4 linked regions of the Homo sapiens genome follow. The protein of the gene in region 2 purifies or fractionates together with the protein of the main gene of each other region. This does not show direct contact. Each region holds a gene or a part of one and is shown on either strand. Other genes may lie near its edges.

Evidence for each region.
Region 1: the proteins of RAMP1 (region 2) and MANBA purify together in Homo sapiens (affinity purification with mass spectrometry; one large-scale study listed by BioGRID and IntAct). This does not show direct contact.
Region 3: the proteins of RAMP1 (region 2) and PACSIN2 purify together in Homo sapiens (affinity purification with mass spectrometry; one large-scale study listed by BioGRID and IntAct). This does not show direct contact.
Region 4: the proteins of RAMP1 (region 2) and AGGF1 purify together in Homo sapiens (affinity purification with mass spectrometry; one large-scale study listed by BioGRID and IntAct). This does not show direct contact.

The regions. Positions count from the first base shown.
Region 1 is NC_000004.12:102,726,051-102,730,890, forward strand, and holds part of MANBA (beta-mannosidase precursor), read right to left. Parts: intron 4,687-4,840; exon of another isoform or gene 1,320-4,686; coding exon of another isoform or gene 1,218-1,319; intron 634-1,217; coding exon 539-633; intron 1-538.
Region 2 is NC_000002.12:237,879,178-237,884,017, reverse strand, and holds part of RAMP1 (receptor activity-modifying protein 1 isoform 1 precursor), read right to left. Parts: intron 1-4,840. UniProt on the Homo sapiens protein: Accessory protein that interacts with and modulates the function of G-protein coupled receptors including calcitonin gene-related peptide type 1 receptor (CALCRL) and calcitonin receptor (CALCR). Required for the transport of CALCRL to the plasma membrane.
Region 3 is NC_000022.11:42,871,732-42,876,571, forward strand, and holds part of PACSIN2 (protein kinase C and casein kinase substrate in neurons protein 2), read right to left. Parts: intron 4,603-4,840; coding exon 4,406-4,602; intron 3,800-4,405; exon of another isoform or gene 761-3,799; intron 729-760; exon of another isoform or gene 254-728; intron 1-253.
Region 4 is NC_000005.10:77,042,982-77,047,821, reverse strand, and holds part of AGGF1 (angiogenic factor with G patch and FHA domains 1), read right to left. Parts: intron 1,476-4,840; coding exon 1,145-1,475; intron 1-1,144. UniProt on the Homo sapiens protein: Promotes angiogenesis and the proliferation of endothelial cells. Able to bind to endothelial cells and promote cell proliferation, suggesting that it may act in an autocrine fashion.

The sequences.
Region 1 (4,840 bases), on a different chromosome or scaffold from region 2:
AACAATATTCTGGCCTTTTCCCCCCTTTAAAAGACTAGTAAATAATTACCAAAAAAAAAAAATCACATAAAAGGGACAGAAGGATTTTTTTTTTCATTTAGCAGTAGTGGTGGTACCTTTGGGTAACATTCTACCTCATATGGAAATATTTGCTTATAATAACAGAACATTACTGAAAACAGTATCTGTGCTTCACCTCCTGGCTTCACCACATAGTATAGGTCAAGGTCATAGTCTCAATGGCTGGTTAGCACTACATAGGGCATAACCACTGGAAAAATGACTCCATAAGACACAATTTGGTGACTGTTGATTAGTAGCACCATCCTCATATACAAAACAAAACATAAATAATATATTCACTTTTATAGTACAAGGCTTTCATCTTACTTAACTCTCAGATATGTAACCTAAACAAACAAAACAAAACAAAACATACAAAACAAAAAAAAAACAAACAAAACACAACATTTTTGCCCAGATAGAAAAAGAAGAAAAGTTCAAATAATAATAAAAATACACCCACAAACATACATACCTAATTTCAAAGGGGATTTTAAATTCTTTGCTATAGGTCCAGTTATCCAAAGAGACCCATCTGTAGTTAAGGTCATTAAATCTGTAGTAAGAATCCTGTTGATACAAGGTAAAAATTATGGTAGATGGTTAAATATGCACAAATAAATTAATAAAACAAACATAAAATAAATTATTAACAACAGCTATTTATCACCTAAAAATTAACGAACTTTTAGCCTAGTAGTACAAAGAGGGGACAGATCGTTAATACTGAAAAATGTGAAGGGAAAATTCCAACAAATTACCTGAAATGAAATAATCCTCTGAGATATAAATAATACAGCTTCATTATCAAAGAAAATTGGTGGGCATTAAGATTGGCTTCCCCTTGGAGACAGGGTTTCACCATGTTGGCCAAGCTGGTCTCAAACTCCTGACCTCAAGTGATCCACCTACCTCAGCCTCCCAAAGTGCTAGGATTACAGGCATGAGCCATCATGTCCGGCCTACAGTTTATCTTGTGTACTAACCTGTTTCACTCTCTAAATGAGCAAAGTGGGAGATCACTGTCACGGCTGAAGTTACATGGCCAAGACAAACTATGGTCTGGGAGTCCCAGGTTCTCCTGTGTGGGCACTTTCCTGGAAGATGCTAAATGATAGGAAAATCTGGGTTTCATGTTTCTGTGTGGTCCTCACCTCACTTGACTTCTGCTCTTTCTGTTTGCTCTGGGCTTCCGTGCTCTCATTGATATAGTTCTCAGTTTTCCATTGGTCTGTATCCCATTCTGCCTTGGACATCTTTACTTCTTGCTGCTCACTGATGAATCAGGAGGCCTGTCCTGGAGATGAGCTTGGTATAGGCCAATTGCACATGGGTCTCAGAGCACTCCATCTTCAAGGTCCAGATAACATGAGAAATGAGTCTTCTCACATCATTATTGGGGATGAGGGGCCGTAGCTGCTGGTTTAGCTGAATTTCAAACTGATCACCTGGGGACGAGAGCAATGGGTAATTGAAGCTTTTGGGCTCGGGAGACAGGCCAGTGCCCATGTTGTTGTATTCCCATTGTGTTTCACAGTCTTCTCTAAGTTGAACGCAGTCTCAGCAGAATCTCCCTCAGGAGGATGGTTGTAGGTTGTGTTTTCAGAGATGGTGCCTTCTGGCATAGTAGTGTTTTCCATAAAAATGTTTTGTTCAAAGGCATTTCTTGCAGTGGTGCTTTTAAAACATTCTGATGGAGAAATACTTCCGGAAAAGGATTTTCCTGAAGACTCAGGTCTCCTAAAGATGAAAAAGCCCCTTGTGAAGGGGCATTTATGAGGCTTTTCACTGCAGAGAATGGAGGCCTCTTTGCAAGCAAAGTCTACTGAGAGAACTTTTCTGGAATGTACGATTGGTTTTAACTCAACTTTGCATTTTCTAAAACCAAAATGGGTAAGTCTTTCAATCTGTTTCTGACCACAGGTAGGGCTTTTGCAGGGGTGGAGATAGAAGGCACGCCCATGGAGAAGGGTTTCAGCAAAGAGAAGACTGCTGCCTTATGCTCTTGGTTGAACGAAGGCTTGGTATAGATGGCGTTTCCTGCTAACTTCTCATGCCCCTGCTCTATGTGAGGCTGTTCCAGCTCCCTTGGGGCTGGACTCCTGAGCCTTTTTTCTTTGGCAGCATTCTCCACAAATGCCCAGGCACCCTGTTCCTTCCTGTTGCTCTGCTTTCCCACCTCTTTGAAGTGACTTTTCTGGATGCTCCTTGGGCCCATGAGGATTCTGTTCACTCTCTGCAGGCTTTTGCCTACACTTTGAATCTTAGCCAGGCTGTTTTCCTGTGGTTGGACAGTTTCTAATTTCATGAGTTTTTGGATGCAGATTGAAGAGAGGGACTCTTTGTATGGTTTTTCGGAATACCCATCTTTCACATTTGAAAAAAACAGGTAACTATAAGGTTAGCTGTTGGCAGAGCTAGCAGAGGTTTTATTTTGGACCAAAAAAAAAAAGCAATTGAATTGTTTTGTAGCTGAAGGCATAGGCATGGGGGGTCCCCAGGTAGTAAACTACCCTGTGGGTGGGTTGAGGGCTAGGGCTGGGCCTCAGGTGGGTCTCACGTTCCCTGTGCTCCCTTCTGCTCTCTGGGAGAGTCGCAGGAGGGGCAGGCTGGGAGGGGCTGCCGCAGCTGTTCACTTGGGCAGGACGTCAGAGGACTAGGACACCAGCCTCCCATCATGGGTCTCGATCTTCTTCACAACCACTGCCCTGGTGGTGCTGGTGCGGCTGAAGGAGCTGGAGCCCACACCAGAGCCAAAGCTGGGGCTTGGGAGGCCCCCACAGGCCGAGCTCAGATCACCTGCATAACCACTGGTGGTCTTTGTATGGATACTCATGTTCTGCATCCCAGAGTCCAGCTGGCTCTCCTCGCCCTCCAGCAGCTTCCTGTAGGTGGCTATCTCGATGTCCAGGGCCAGCTTGATGTTCATCAGTTCCTGGTACTCAAGCAGTTGCCATGCCATGTCCTGCTTGGCCTGCTGCAGGGCGGCCTCCAGCTTGGACAGCTTGGCGTTGGCATCCTTAACAGCCAGCCCCCTGTGCTGCAGACATCTGTGATGGTGCCCTCCAGGGAAGCCCTCTGGCCTTTGAGGCCCTCAGTCTCAGCCTGGAGCTGGCTGATGTTCCGGTTCATCTCAGAAATCTCAGTCTTTGTACACTGCAGGTCATCCTCGTGCTTCCCAGCCAGCATCTGCAGCTCCTCATCCTTGATCTGGTACATGCTCTCAGCCTTGGCCTGGCTGCAGTTGGCGATCTCCTCGTATGGTGCCTTGACCTCAGCGATGATGCTGTTCATGCCCAGGGAGCGGCTGTTGTCCATGGGCAGCACCACAGATGTGTCCGAGATCTGGGACTGCAGCTCCTGGATCTCCTCTTCATACAGCTGCTTGAGGAAATTGATCTCGTCAGTCAGCCCTTCCAGGTGAGACTCCAGCTCTACCTTGTTCATGTAACCTTCATCCACATCCTCTTGATGAGGACAAATTCATTCTCCACCTCTGTACACTTATTGATCTCATCCTCATACTTGTTCTTGAAGTCCTCCACCAGCCCGGGCATGTTGCCAAGCTCCGCCTCCAGCTTCAGCTTCTCCTGGCCCAGAGTCTTCAGCTGCTGCCTAAGGTTGTTGATGTAGCTCTGGAACATGTTGTCCATGTTGCTCTGAGCCATCTTCTGCTGCTGCAGGAGGCTCCACTTAGTCTCCAGCATCTTGTTCTACTGCTCCAGGAACCATACCTTGTCTATGAAGGAGGCAAACTTGTTGTTGAGGGTCTTGATCTGCTGCTTCTCCTGGGTGCGCACAGCCTGGATGTTGGGGTCCACCTCCAGGTTAAGGGGGCTCAGCAGGCTCTGGTTGACTGTGATGGTGGTGATGCCACCCACGCTGCTGCCCTCACCATAGCCTCCGCCCAGACAACCTTGGAAGCTGCTGCTGCCCACTAGGGAGAAGCCTGAGGAGCTTATCTGGACACTGGGCCCACTTGTGTAGGAGTGGCTGCTGAAGGCCCGGGGCCCAGAGGTGGACACCTTGTAGGACTTCTGGGTCACCCTGATGGACATGGTGGAGGCAGGAGTGGGGGCAGGAAGGCCGAACCAGATAGAGATCCCAGAAGGAGTGGAGAAGCTGCTTCTTGGTCTTTTCAGTTAACTTTACCACATATCGTCTCATGACCGGAGGAATTTACAAGAGGGTATAACTTAGATTTATCCACATTTCTCATGACCTTCCCTGTGCCACCTGGAGGGCTGTAAGCAGGGTTTGCTTAGTGTAGCAAGTCGGCAACCTTGCTGTGGCACCTAGATAAGGGTTCAGGAATGCAGCTGCAGAGTATTCGGGGTAAGGGTCAGCTGCACTGCGGGGGCGGTTCCTGGGGCAGCTCGTCCCTAACAGTAACAACATTGATTCTACATCTTATAGATTTTTCTATGAGAAATAAGGCAAGACGTAATTTAGTGCGTCATTGATGTCTAGCTGCTCACTCCCAAAGCCTGACAAGTTGATGCCATTGCTGTCTGAGGCCGCCTCCAGCTCAGTAGTCAGCTCAGTGCTCGTGTGCTTCTTCCGGGCTTGTAATACCTTCATGAACGCTCCTTCTGGATTCCCTACAGATAGATGCTTCTTCAACTGTCAGGTAAGACACAATAAGTCTTTCTGAGTTTCTCTTATAGGGTTTAGCTTGTTAATTTCCTTATACTTTGTCCTCAAACTCAACTATCTTGTTCTTCCTTGCGCCTAGTTACCATAAACAGCCTACCCGCTTCCCGTCAGCTCTAATCAA
Region 2 (4,840 bases):
CCAGCAAGCACCTGCGTGCAGATCCATGCCGGGCAGCCAAGGTCCCAGGGCAAGCGCAGTGGCTACAAACCCTGAATGCGCAAAAAAAAAAAAAAAAAAAAAAAAGTGGACCTACAGGCCAGGGCAGGGACCCAGGAATGACCCCTGTGCAGAGGAGGAGCCTCTTTTTTTTTTTTCTTTTCTTTTCTTTTTTTTTTTTTTGAGGTAGGGTCTGGTTCTATCACCCAGGCTGGAGTGCAAGTGGTACCATCATGGCTCACTGCAGCCTTGACCTCTCAGGCTTGAGTGATCCTCCCGCCTCAGCCTCCCAAGCACCTGGGTCTACAGGTGTCCAACACCATGTACAGCTAATTTTTAAAATTTTTGTAGAGATGGAGTCTCACTTTGTTGTCCAGGCTGTTCTCACACTCCTGGGCTTAAGTAATTCTTCTGCCTTGGCCTCCCAAAGTGTTGGGATTACAGGCGAAAGCCACTGCACCAGGCCATGAGGAGTCTTCCATTCACTTTTTACTTCTATTCAACGTCCTGAGTAAAGCAGGGATCACGGGGGGCCTCCTTCCCATCTGCTTTGATAGAGGAAGCAAGACTTCTGGGCCGGCACTAGGAGCTGGCACGAGCATGTCTCAGCCCCCACTTACTCCTGTGTGTGTATCCCATAAAAGGCTGGCCGGCCGCCTTTGTCTACGTCGCTCATAGGAAGGTGAGTCCCCTTTGACACGCAGCTGTTGTTAAATGAGACCTCTGATTTCAGAAGAGTCTGGAAGCTTCCCTCTGCCATATACCAAGATACCTGCAGGCCCAGCCCAGGGCCCTGGGACAGCTATGACCTTGGGCGGCAGCAGGCATGTGGCAGCTCTGGCCCAGAGGCTCCTGCCTTCAGAATCCCCTGGCCTCCATGCCAGCCTGGTTTTGGATACCAGACCCCAATAATTGCCTGGTTCTGCTTGCTTGGCTTCTGCCCCAGCTGCCAAGCCTCAACTGCACTTGGCTCAGAGACGGGCCTTTCCCAGAGCCTGTGTCCCCCATCAGGTCACCTGCCTGGCTCACAGTCCTTGAGACCAGCTGGGACCCTGCTTGGGCTGGGAGCATTCCCTGAGGCCAGCCACCTGGCTGTCTGGCTGCCTGCCGGTCAGCCTCACTTTGGGGTCCCGCTCATCCAACAGACACAGTGCCACCTGCCCACACCTGGTGATGGCCTGCCTGCAGGCAGCCTAGCGCCTCTCACCCTATTTGTGCCTTCGTGTTCTCTCCAGGGCCCTCTTCCCCTCCACTAGTTACTTGGACAAACTTGCCCACCCTAGAACCCCAGGCCCTCGCTGCTACTGGAGACCCTTGGAAGGCTGCCCTTGGCCCACTGCCAGGCTTGGTGTCTCAATGCGATGGACCTCACCAGGTTGGTAGGGACATCGCCAGGACGGAGGCAGCACCTGAAGGCTTGCATCCCCATCTCAGGAGGCCACAGTTATATGGAGGCAGGGCATCCCTCCACCTCCGCCGGGAACCAGGAGGGAGCCATGGGTACCAGCTGTGCGAGCCTGGGCAGGTGAAGCAGCAATCACAACAGCCCCACCTCCGCCAGGCTGCTGCTGACCTCAAAAAGCCAATGTACGTTACGTGCTCGACACAAAGCCCAGCACGCGGTAATAAACGCCAGCTACAGTAAACGCGTTTCTTGGACTAAGTTAAGGGATAATTAGGTAAACATTCAGCAGGCGGTGAGGACCCATTGATAGTTCTGGAGAATAGATCAATATGAGATTCAGGTGAGATGAGGAAGGTTTGGGAAAGGGACGATTTAAGAAGGCACGGGCCAAGTGCACAGGGAAGCTTAGTGCATGACAAAGGTGGCATCTCAGGTCACGGGGAGCAGAGATGGACGTTTGCATAAATGGGACAAGTGGGTAGCGCATCCAGAAAAAGATAACATTTGATTCATAGTTCACACCATACACAAGAATAAACTGGAATAAACTCCGATGGGCCAAGGATTTCGATGGAACCAGTGGGACCACACAGGCTAGAGGAAAACGTGGCAAATCCCTCTTTTCCCTTCATGTGGGGAGGGGCTTTCCACTAGGACTCCAATCCAGAGGCGATCAAAGATGGATGGTTTTGACCACATTAAAAAAATTGTGTGGCAACAAAAACACCAAAAGAAAAAAAAAACAAAGTTGAAAGACAACCAACAAACTAGGAGAAAATCTCTAATGTACACGAGAGACAAAGGCCTAACCCATCTAACATACAAAGAACTCTTTAAAAACGACCTGATAGAAAATAGGAAAAGACACAATTTGCCAAAAAGATAAAAGAACGGCCTGTAAACATACGAAAGATGTTCGGATTCACTCCTAAGTACAGAAATGCAAACTCACATGCTGCTGAGACATCACTTCTCACTTATCAGACAGTAACAACTCTAATGGACGACAACACAGTCTGTTGGTGGGTCTGGGGAAACGGGCACCCCATACGCTGCTGGTGGGAATGCAAACTGGCATCAGCCTTCTGGAGGGACGTTGCAAAACCTAACACATTCCTCCTGCTCTCACCTTTGGTCCTGCGACCCCACTTCTGGGTATCTATTCTGAAGAGTCAGCTCCAGTGCTGGGAAAACACGGATGCGTGAGGCCATCCACGTCGATGCTGAAATGGGAAAATACTGGCCACAACCTAAGTGCCTCTGCTCGCTTGGCTTCTGCCCTGGCTGAAAGGAAAATGGCTGAAAGACTCTGCACGGCGGAGTACTATACAGCTGTAAAAATGAAGGAGGAGGCTCCCTCTGCACTGACAAGGAGAGAGTTCCAGGTTATGTTGTTAAGTGAAGAAAAACCAAAGTACAAAGGAGTGTCACTAGTATACAACCCTTTATATAAGAAAGAAGGGGATGTAAGAAAATGCAGGCATCTGCTCATTTATGCAAAAGATATACAGGAAAGAAAGACCAGAAACTGATGAGGTAAGTTGCCCACAGGAATTGGGTGGGAACAGGGTGAAAGGAATGAGAGAAATGGGCAGGGGCAGGAGGAGGAGGGACAATGCCAGTTGTCTGAACACACCTTTGCGCAGAGACCTCTGCCCCTGGAACCAGTGTGATGATTATAGCTTTATGAGCCAACTTGGCCAGGCTACAGTGCCCAGTTACTCAGTCAAACACTAGTCTAGGGGTCACTGTGGGGGTATTTGGGAGATGTGGTTAACATCTATCATCAGTTGTCTTTAAGTAAAGGGGATAATCCTTGATGCTGGGGGTGGGGCCTCACCCAGCCAATGGTAAGGCCTTACCAGCACGTTCGGAAATTCTGCCTCAAGAATGCTGCGTCGGCTCCCAAGAGTTTCCAGCCTGCTGGCCTGCTGGGCCCTGGGATTGGGCAAGCCAATTTTTTGAAACAATATTGTTTTACCCAGCCTTTCTCGATACCATGGCTTAAATAGGGATTCACCCATGTTTTCTTCTAGCACCTGTATGGTTCCGTGGGTTCCATCTAAATCCCTGGGATGTGTGTACACCCACACATACGCACATATATCTTGGTTTCTAGATACCATTCTCTAACAAAAGGAACCAGTGTTCCTTGGAGAAATGGCTGACTTCAGGGCTGGGGCACAAAATGTCTAAGATAAGCCTGGAACATCTCGTGGTACCAGAAAGAAAGAAAGTGCTCAAAAACAGCCAGGGGCAATGTCGAAAGGACACAGAAGCCAGTGTGAAGGCTCTCCAGTAGCCAAAGCTGGGACCAACCTAAGGGACCTTGTGATAGCACCGGGCCCCGGGATGATCCCGCATCTCCCATCTCAAAGCCACCTGATTAGTGTCACCAATTCTGTCTGTGACTTTATCCCCTTTGCCGTGTGACACATCGACAGTTCCAGGAATTACGCATGGACATCTCTGGGGGGCATCATTCTGCCAAACGCAGACCCCAGGGGCTGGCAGGCCTGGGCTGACGTGCTGAGATGCTGTTGTGATGTGGACTTTTCCTTCTTGGTTCCTAAATTATCTTGATTTTTTTTTTTTTTTTTTTTTTGAGACAAAGTCTCACTCTGTCCCTCAGGCTGGAGTGCAGTGGCGCCATCTCGGCTCACGGCAACCTCCGCCTCCTGGGTTCAAGCAATTCTCCTGCCTCAGCCTCCCGAGTAGCTGGGATTACAGGCGTGTGCTACCACGCCCGGCTAATTTTTATATTTTTAGTAGAGATGGGGTTTCACCATGTTGGCTAGGCTGGTCTGGAACTCCTGACCTCAGTTGATCCACCCGCCTTGACCTCCCAAAGCGTTGGGATCACAGGTGTGAGCCACAGTGCCCGGTCAGATTTTTTTTTTTTTTAATACTTTAAGTTCTAGGGCACATGTGCACAACGTGCAGGTTTGTTACGTATGTATACATGTGCCATATTGGTGTGCTGAACCCATTAAATGACGAGTTAATGGGTGCAGCACACCAATATGGCACATGTATACATACGTAACAAACCTGCACGTTGTGCACATGTGCCCTAGAACTTAAAGTATCATAATAATAATAATAATAAAAAAACGAAAATTCCCAGCAACTCCCCCTCCTTCTAGTTCCAGCTATGGCCACTCGGCTCCGAGGATGGCGAACTCTCTCTGGCCTCAGCGCTAGTTATTCCTCTTTGTGCTCTGGCACTGCAGGAAGCCATCTGTGGTGGCTTCCATTTCTAAGGACACTCCACCATGGCTGCTTGTAGAACACTGTGTGCATTACCCTGCTGTCTTCTGCCAGGCCTCCCGTTCACAATCAATCTACACAAATTAACCATCACTTCCACAAAGCAGGCGGGGGAGAGTGCTTTTCTCCAGGGGCCCCCCATTGTGT
Region 3 (4,840 bases), on a different chromosome or scaffold from region 2:
TGAGACTGCGGCATCCAGCTCCATAGGGCTGTGCCTTCCTCACCACCCTGGCCAGGTGGCAGGAATCGTCCCTCGGTTGTGCCCCTCCCTCACGTTGGGCCTCTTCTGTCCCCTCCCCAGGGCCCCGGCCGCCTTGCTCCCAGCAGCTGTCTCTGGGGTCTCTCTGCCTTTGCTAATCCCTCTCCTCTGCAACTTCCAGGCTGCGAGGGGAAGGGACCATGTCTGACAGTCATACCTGTCATTTTATCCCCAGCACCTGGCTGATGACTTGTGCACGGTGCCATGTGTCAACCCTTCCTGAGACCCTGAGAAGGAGCCCCTGGCGCTGTTCTGGAATCTCCCTGTGGCTCTAATGTATTAACGTGGTTCCATTTATCTTTGGTTGTTCCAACCTGAAGGACCTCCTACTTCTGGCCAGGCCTTGGGTAGAAGAGGAGATACAGAGATGAGAGGAACTGATGGATCCTGGTCTCAAGGAGGCAGACTAGGGTGGTGAGGGGGAGGTGGCACTAGGGTAGGGCCCCAGGTCTGGCATTTGCCAGGTTAGGGAAGCAGAGCAGCTCAGAGCCCAGGGGTGGGCAGGGGCCTGTGTGCTTCTGGTTGGTAACTCACTGCAGGGAAGGCCAGTTGGGCCTGCTGGCTCGGACCTCGTCAGGAGCAAGCAATTGGTGGGAAAGAAATAGTCCCAGTGCTGTTTTGCCTTTATTGCTAAGTTTGAAGTTTTGTAACTCTCTTTGGCATTTTTTGGTCCATTTTTCAGAATTAGATGCAGTTTTCCCCCTGGTTTAGCATTTCCCTGATGCTTTGGATTTTGTATGGCAGCAATGCTGGTCAACATGCCTGCGGAGCTAATACCTGGGGCTTCCAGTGCTCCCCGGACTGCCTGGGCTCAAATCCCACAGCCATCACTCACTGGCTGGGAGACCTGGACCAACTGCGTCCACTCCCTGGGCCTGTGGCCCTCATCTGTGGACTGGGGGTACTGTGAAGATTAAGTGTTAAGACACTAAAGAACCCTGGGAGGGTGGGACATGCGTAAGCACTGGCTCAGCCTCCCACTGTCGTGCCGCTTCTGCCAGACCAGTGCGCCTGCAGATCTAACCCAGAGGCATCAGGAGCAGATGCAGGGGCCACAGGGCAGCAGCCACGATGAACCACCATCTCTTTCCACCGCTTCGTGCCTCGGGCCCCTGGCGTTTCTTTTGTCCTGCCTTCATTGGTTGCTGTGCTCTCACAGGCCTGGATCCAGGCTACCGAGGCTAGGATGAGGCCTGTAACCCCACACTACCATGTGGCAAACAGCCAGAACACCGCAAGAGACGTAAGTCAAGCCACACTGGCTGGGAGCTAATTTTGCATTGTTAAAAAGCAGGATAACACAGAAAATAGAACGGACAGGAAAGCTTTCACATTGTGCAAATGTGAACTGGTGATTAGAAGGTTCATTTCAATCAGTTTGCTTTTGACAATTTACTTGGATCTGGAAGAAACATTTTAAATCTACAAAATTACTGTCAAACCCAATAGGCAGGATTGAAAAGGAGTTAGAAATTATAAACAAATAAACCAACAAAGTCGGGGGTAACAACCCCAACCAAAGATATCAGAAACTGGATGAAGATGGCTTAAAGGCACATTAAAAAAAAATCCAAAAAAACAAAAAAACCCAACTTCTCAAACTGGGCAGAGGCAGCTGATAACCAGCCCAGGGGAAGAGTGTCTGGGGACAGCAGGCTGGCACTCTGGGTGCTGAGGGGAGGAGGCTGAAGACTGGTTAGAAGCTAGGCCATTGGGCACAGCCCCCAGGCCCTGGCTTCCCTGCTGAGTCAGGGGTTGGGGTGGTGGTGGTAAGGCAGCCTTTCCCACAAGTGTAGCCTAGGGGCAAGGGCACACTTCAGCCTGTGTGGGTTGAGTTCTGGCCCAGCTTCCCTCTTGGAGTGGTAGATGCTGCTTCTGGGGGAGCTTCACAAAGAGGGCAAGAGAGGGAAGAATCTGGGTTGCTGTGGGTCCACTTTGGCCCTAGGCCACTCCAGCTTCCTTAGGTGCTAAGATAGCAATTTTCTTTCCTTTTTTTTTTTTTGAGACAGAGTGTCACTCCATCACCCAGGCTGGAGTGCAGTGGTATGATCTCAGCTCACTGCAACCTCCACCTCCCAGGTTCAAGTGATTCTCTTGGCCTCCCCAGTAGCTGGGATTACAGGTGTGTGCCACCATGCCTGAATAATTTTTTTATTTTTTAATAGAGGCAGGGTTTCACCATGTTGGCCAGGCTGGTCTCAAACTCCTGACCTCAAGTGATCCTTCGGCCTTGGCCTCGCAAAGTGCTGGGATTACAGGTGTGAGCCATCGTGCCCGGACAAGATAACACTTTTCAAATTGAAGATGTGAAAAGCCATTTTGGTAAACTGCAAATGCATTAAAAAAGATTCCTATAGTGGGTGGGGTGGTAGCACACATCTGTGGTCCCAGCTACGTAGGAGGCTGAGGTGGGAGGACTGCTTGAGCCCAGGAGATCAAGGCTGCAGCTGCTGTGAGCTATGATCGCACCACTGTAACCCAGCTTGGCTAACAGAGTGAGACCGTGTCTCTATTAAAAAAAAAAAAAAAAAAGATTATCATTGAAGACCATTCAAAGAAGAAAAAGACATTGCACAGAAAGTCTTCACAGGCAGAGCACATGTAATCAGGATCCAGGCTGTTTTATAAAACTATGGTTTCTGCTCCTAGCAACACAGATATGTGTGTGGGTTGGTGTGTGCATGGTAGGTGTGGGCAGGTAGGTGTGCACACACACAAGTTGCTGCCTGAGACAAGGCCCCACCTGGCCCAGGGGCATGCCAAGTGCTACTCTGGGGTCTGGGCAAAGCTGTGGCTCTCCTGAGGGCTTCTCTGGCAGTTGGGGACCCCTAGAGAAAGGCTTCTCTCATGGCCCTGCGGGGCTAGCAGCTCCCAGACTACATATGGGGGAACCTGGTGGTCCTGGCCAACAGCTTCTCCAGATGCCCTTCTGTGTGACTAGCCAGTGCCCTGCAATTCACAGCCTTGGCCCAGCAAGGTGAGGAGTCCAGGCACTGGCTTGGCAGCACCTCACTATTTCTGAGTCTTGGCATTGGGCATCCGCTTTTTTTTTTTTTTTTGAAAAAGAGTTTTGCTCTGTCGCCCAGGCTGGAGTGCAGTGGCGCAATCTCGGCTCACTGCAAGCTCCGCCTCCCGGGTTCAAGCAATTTTCCTGCGTCAGCCTCCCGAGTAGCTGGGACTACAGGCGGCTGCCACCACGCCCGGCTAATTTTTTGTATTTTTAGTAGAGACGGGGTTTCACACTCTTAGCCAGGATGGTCTCAATCTCCTGACCTCGTGATCTGTGTGCCTCGGCCTCCCAAAGTGCTGGGATTACAGGCGTGAGCCACCATGCCCAGCCTACTTTTTTTTTTTTTTAAGAGATGGGGTCTTGCTCTCTCTTCTAGGCTAGAGTACGTGGTATGAACATGGCTCACTGTATCCTCTTGGGTTTAAGTGATCCTCTGCCTCAGCCTCCCAAGCAGCTGGGACTATAGGTATGCAACACCACGCCCAGCTAATCTGCTACTTTTGTTTGTTTATTTATTTGAGACAGGATCTCGCTCTGTTGCCCAGGTTATTTATTTGTTTGTTTGTTTGCGACAGGGTCTCGCTCTGTTGTCCAGGTTGGAGTATAGTGGTACAATCATGATTCATTGCAACCTCAATCTACTGGGCTCAGGTGATCCTCCCACCTCAGCCTCCCAGAGAGCTGGGACTACAGGCATGTGCCACTAAAATTAGCCCAGCTAATTTTTTTTTTTTGACACAAAGTCTTGCTCTGTCACCCAGCCTGGGGTACAGTGGTGTGACCTTGGCTCACTGCAACCTCCACCTCCCAGGTTCAAGTGATTCTCCTGCCGCAGCCTCCTGAGTAACTGTGATTATAGATGCCCCGCCACACGCCTGGCTCATTTTTGTATTTTTAGTAGAGACAGGGTTTCACCATGTTGGTTAGGCTGGGCTCGAACTCCTGACCTCAAGTGATCTGCCTGCCTTGGCCTCCCAAAGGTGCTGGGATTACAGGCGTGAGCCACCATGCCTGGCCTAATTTTTTGTATTTTTTGTAGAGACAGGTTTTGCCATTTTGCCCAGGTTGGTCTCATACTCCTGGGCTCAAGCGATCCTTCCACCTCGGCCTCCCAAAGCTCTGGGACTATAGGCATGAGCCACCACATCCAGCCAATTGGCTGCTTTTGACAATGAAGCCAGGGCACTGGGGAAGGGCCTGCAGTGACTCACAAGTGAAACTAGCAAGAACTTTTCCAGACTTAAAAAACAAAAAAGACCGCCCACAGCCTGCAGGTTGGAAGCCCTCCTCCCCTGGATGCTGGGGGAGCCCACCTACCAGCCTTGAAGCTCAGCTCATCATGCTCCTGCCCCTCATAGTCATACAGGGCCCGGACTCGCACTTCCGTCCCCGAGGTGGCGTCGTCGTCGAATGGATTCGAGTCCCCATTGGCATCCGTGGAGGAGAAGGGGTTGTTAGACTCATCGTCTGACCAGTCGGTGGGATAGCTCTGGGTCTTCTCGTAGCTGCTCACACTGCAAGAAAGGGGAGGCCACAGGGCCCTCAGCACAGGGCGGCAGAGGGTGTGAGGCCCCCGCCCCGCAAGGGGAGGGCACTGGAGCCTTGGGGCTCAGGGCTGAGGGCTCCTTCCGAAGGAGCACAGGTGGAGCCAGTGCTAGTGTGAGTTCATGCCATCCACACTCATCCTGAGCCATCAACAGGCTTTCCAGGGGCAGGCGGCTGGAGATGCCCACAGCAGAGGCCAACCTGGGG
Region 4 (4,840 bases), on a different chromosome or scaffold from region 2:
AAAAGGCCAGGCACAGTGGTCCACACCTATAATCCCAGCACTTTGGGGGGCCGACGCAGGCAGATCACCTGAGGTCAGGAGTTCAAGACCACCCTGGCCAACATGGTCAAACCCTGTCTCTACTAAAAATACAAAAATTAGCTGGGTGTGCGTGGTGACATGCGCCTGTAGTCCCAGCAACTTGGGAGGCTGAGGCAAGAGAATCACTTGAACCCAGGAGGCGGAGGTTACAGTAAGCCGAGACTGCGCCACTGCACTCCAGCCTGGGCAATAGAGCAAGGCTCTGTCTCAAAAAAAATGCAAGAGAAATGCCATTGAGAACCAAAGAACAAAGTAAGCTCATATACTACACAGTTGGCCCTCGGTATCTGTGGGGGATTAGTTCCAAGATCCCTCCTCATATGCCAAAATCTATGGATGTTCAAGTCCTTATATAAATTGTATCGTATTTGCATATAACTTATGTGCATCCTTCTGTATAACTTAAATCATCTCTAGATTACTTACACCTAATACAATGTAAATGCTATATAAATAGGTACACCATATTTAGGGGACAATAACAAGAAAAAAAGTGTGTACATGTTCAGTACAGATGTAGCTATCCATTTTTTTCCCTGAATATTTTTGATCTGAGGTTGCTTGAATCCACTAAAGTAGAACCCATGGATACAGAAGGCCAACTGTAATATGAAATCCTGTGTTTTAAAAGTATGTCTTTATATATTCAAGTAAAAAAAAATTAGATTTACCATAATATCCATGTAGCTGAATTCATAATGTATACTTTTTAAAGACAACTTGTTTTTCTCTCTCAGTTACAAAAGTAGACTACAAATATCTAACCCACTAAAACAGCCTTAATCTATATTTTAAGATTAGAATCCAGGTAACCTGGCTTTGTATTCTACTGACTATGCCATTCAATACAATGAAACCTTCTGAAGGTCTAAGTATTAGTCATTTATTCACATCCTACTCTCTAAGAATAACCAAGTGGCAACCCACAACATTTTCAATAACATCATTAAAATAATGTTTACTTTCTGGCAGATATACTACAACTCACTAACATTTTTAATGGTTTTGCTCTTTTATAGTTACCAGACTGGGCTATTTACTTAAATAATGATTATTTACTCACCTTCATCCTCACTATCTTCTGCAGTTACATTGCCTTCACTGGTAATGGCTTCGTCATAACTATCCTCAGTCTGAGAGTCTGTAATTTCACCTTCCTCTGGTTCACTATCAGTCTCCATGATTTTCTCATCTTTAAATGATGTTGAATTAGAGATGTTTTCATGAAGAGGAGACTCTATAGTATTTCCACTAGTTGGAACAGTGACTTTGGGGGGACTATTTTTGTGATGAATGCCTATTTTGGCCTTCTTTTTCATATTTGCGAAATTTTCTTCCTCATTGCAGCTTGTATGTTCAACACTGAAGGCTTTTTGATCCTCTGAGTTCAAATCCTGGAGAAGGGTGGGTAGATACGAGGGAACAGGGGAGAATACTCTTAAACATCACTATCTTATAACATTACATCAAGTTTCAACGAATTCGTGAAGATATGTGTCAGTAAAATAACAATGGTTACAATCTGTTCCCCCTCTCCTTCTCACATTTCCTTTCTTGGTTAATGATATTACCATCTTCTTATTATCCAAATTAAAAATCCTATAGTTATCTCTGAGATCCCCTTAACCATATATAAAATTACGAAGTGCTACAGACTTTTCTCAAAATATATCCAAATCTGTCTCTCTATTCTCAATGTCTTAACATTCCTAGTTCAGGCCCTCATCACATACTGCCTGGACTATGGGATAGCCTAGACCAATGGTGTCCAATAAAAATGTAACACAAACCATATTTGTACTTTTACATTTTCTAGTAGCCACATTTAAAAAGTAAAATTATTAATGAGATAGTTTACATAGTCTGCAACATCCAGAGTGTATTTTACACTTAACAGCACATTTGAGTTTGGATTAGCAAAACTTCAAGTGCTCAACAGCCACATGGAGCTGCTGGCTACCTTACTGGATAGTGCAGGCCTAAAGAATACCTATTCTAAATTTTCTTTTTAAACTGGTAATCAATTAGCTAGTCAACACAAATAAAATACAGAATTAGCTTTACTTATGACATGAATTTAAAGATCCAAATGTACTCAATATGTAGCAAAATTGTAGTTTTGCTAAAATTTAGTACTTCAGATTCAGCTTGATAATACATAAAAGTTTAAAGTACAAATTAACTGTGACTATCTTATTCCAAAATTTTAACTTGCCTGGCATAAGTCTTTTATTATTTATTGTACATTTATAGTTGATATGCCTTATAATAAATGAACATTTTTTAATTAACAAAAATGATGTATTTTTATCATGTACAACATGAAGTTTTGAAATACGTACACAATGTACAGTGGTTAAATTGAGCTAATTAACATGTACATTACCTCAAATACTTATTTTTCTGTGGTAAGAAACTTAAAATTTGCTCTCAGCAGTTTGCAATAATACAACACATTGTTATTAACAATAGTCACCGTGTTATACAATGGTCAAATCTATCATTTCAGCCTTAGAAAAAGTAAATAATTATTTTCCATTTTTTTCCCTTGGTTTCTAACGCACTCTCACTTTTCTTTCTACCTCAGAGCAACATGAGGCGAATTCATATGCTCTTCTGTTATTTTATAAAATATGAGAGCATCTCACACACCTTTCTTTCTTTTTTTTTTTTTTTGAGACGGAGTCTCGCTCTGTCGCCCAGGCTGGAGTGCAGTGGCGCGATCTCGGCTCGCTCCAACCTCCACCTCCCAGGTTCAAGAGATTCTACTGCCTCAGCCTCCCGAGTAGCTGGGACTACAGGCATGCGCACCACCATACCCAGGTAATTTTTTTATTTTTAGTAGAGATGGGGTTTCACCATGTTGGCCAGACTGGTCTCGATCTCTTGACCTCATGATCCATCCACCTCACATACCTATCTTTGATAACAGCGTAAGTTCAGCTTGGAGACTGGCTAAACATTCACAGTGTGATAAATTATACACACTTCTAGCAATACAAATTCACCCAGAACAAGAACAAGGGCAAGGAGCTGAAAAACCATGAGGAGCTTTTACATTATAAAATTATAGCAAAAAAGTTCCCTATCTGTATATACTCTTAAAAAAGCAGTTTCCAATCTTGTATATTTATTACTTACTGAACAACATATGCAGGGAAAGCTATTTGCCAGTACAGAACATTAGATAGTCATTAAGTGAAAAGAAAGGAGGGCTTATTTATGGGCACTGAGGCACATATGTATATTTCAAATTATTTACTCCTATCTCCCCTACTGTCTTCCTTCCACATAACCTTCACCTACAAAAAGTGAGGCTCAAAAATATCTTTAAAAATAAAGAAAACAGATGAAGATACTCTCTTGGCCTCACAGGTACCTTTTAGAATCCTCAGGAAATTCTCAAAATTCCAACAGGATTTTTCTTAAAAGTTCTTGTCGAGTGCTCAATGGTGCCCAGGCTGGAGTGCAGTGGCGTGATCTCGGCTCACTACAACCTACACCTCCCAGCCGCCTGCCCTGGCCTCCCAAAGTGCCGAGATTGCAGCCTCTGCCCGGCCGCCACCCTGTCTGGGAAGTGAGGAGTGTCTCTGCCTGGCCGCCCATCGTCTGGGATGTGAGGAGCCCCTCTGCCTGGCTGCCCAGTCTGGAAAGTGAGGAGCGTCTCCGCCCGGCCGCCATCCCATCTAGGAAGTGAGGAGCGTCTCTTCCCAGCCGCCATCACATCTAGGAAGTGAGGAGCGTCTCTGCCCGGCCGCCCATTGTCTGAGATGTGGGGAGCGCCTCTGCCCCGCCGCCCCATCTGGGATGTGAGGAGCGCCTCTGCCCGGCCGAGACCCCGTCTGGGAGGTGACGAGCGTCTCTGCCCGGCCGCCCCGTCTGAGAAGTGAGGAGACCCTCTGCCTGGCAACCACCCCGTCTGAGAAGTGAGGAGCCCCTCCGCCCGGCAGCTGCCCACTCTGAGAAGTGAGGAGCCTCTCCGCCCGGCAGCCACCCCATCTGGGAAGTGAGGAGCGTCTCCGCCCGGCAGCCACCCCGTCCGGGAGGGAGGTGGGGGGGATCAGCCCCCCGCCCGGCCAGCCGCCCCATCCGGGAGGGAGGTGGGGGGTCAGCCCCCCCGCCCGGCCAGCCGTGCCATCCGGGGGGGGGGGGGTCAGCCCCCCGCCTGGCCAGCCGTGCCGTCCGGGAGGGAGGTGGGGGGGTCAGCCCCCCGCCCGGCCAGCCGCCCCGTCCGGGAGGGAGGTGGGGGGGTCAGCCCTCCGCCCGGCCAACCGCCCCGTCTGGGAGGTGAGGGGCGCCTCTGCCCGGCCGCCCCTACTGGGAAGTGAGGAGCCCCTCTGCCCGGCCAGCCGCCCCGTCCGGGAGGGAGGTGGGGGGGTCAGACCCCCGCCCGGCCAGCCGCCCTGTCCGGGAGGGAGGTGGGGGGGTCAGCCCTCCGCCCGGCCAGCCGCCCCGTCTGGGAGGTGAGGGGCGCCTCTGCCCGGCCGCCCCTACTGGGAAGTGAGGAGCCCCTCTGCCCAGCCAGCCGCCCCGTCCGGGAGGGAGGTGGGGGGGTCAGCCCCCCGCCCGGCCAGCCGCCCTGTCCGGGAGGGAGGTGGGGGGGTCAGCCCTCCGCCCGGCCAGCCGCCCCGTCTGGGAGGTGAGGGGCGCCTCTGCCCGGCCGCCCCTACTGGGAAGTGAGGAGCCCCTCTGCCCGGCCAGCCGCCCCGTCCGGGAGGGAGGTGGGGGGGTCGGCCCCCCGCCCGGCCAGCCGCCCCGT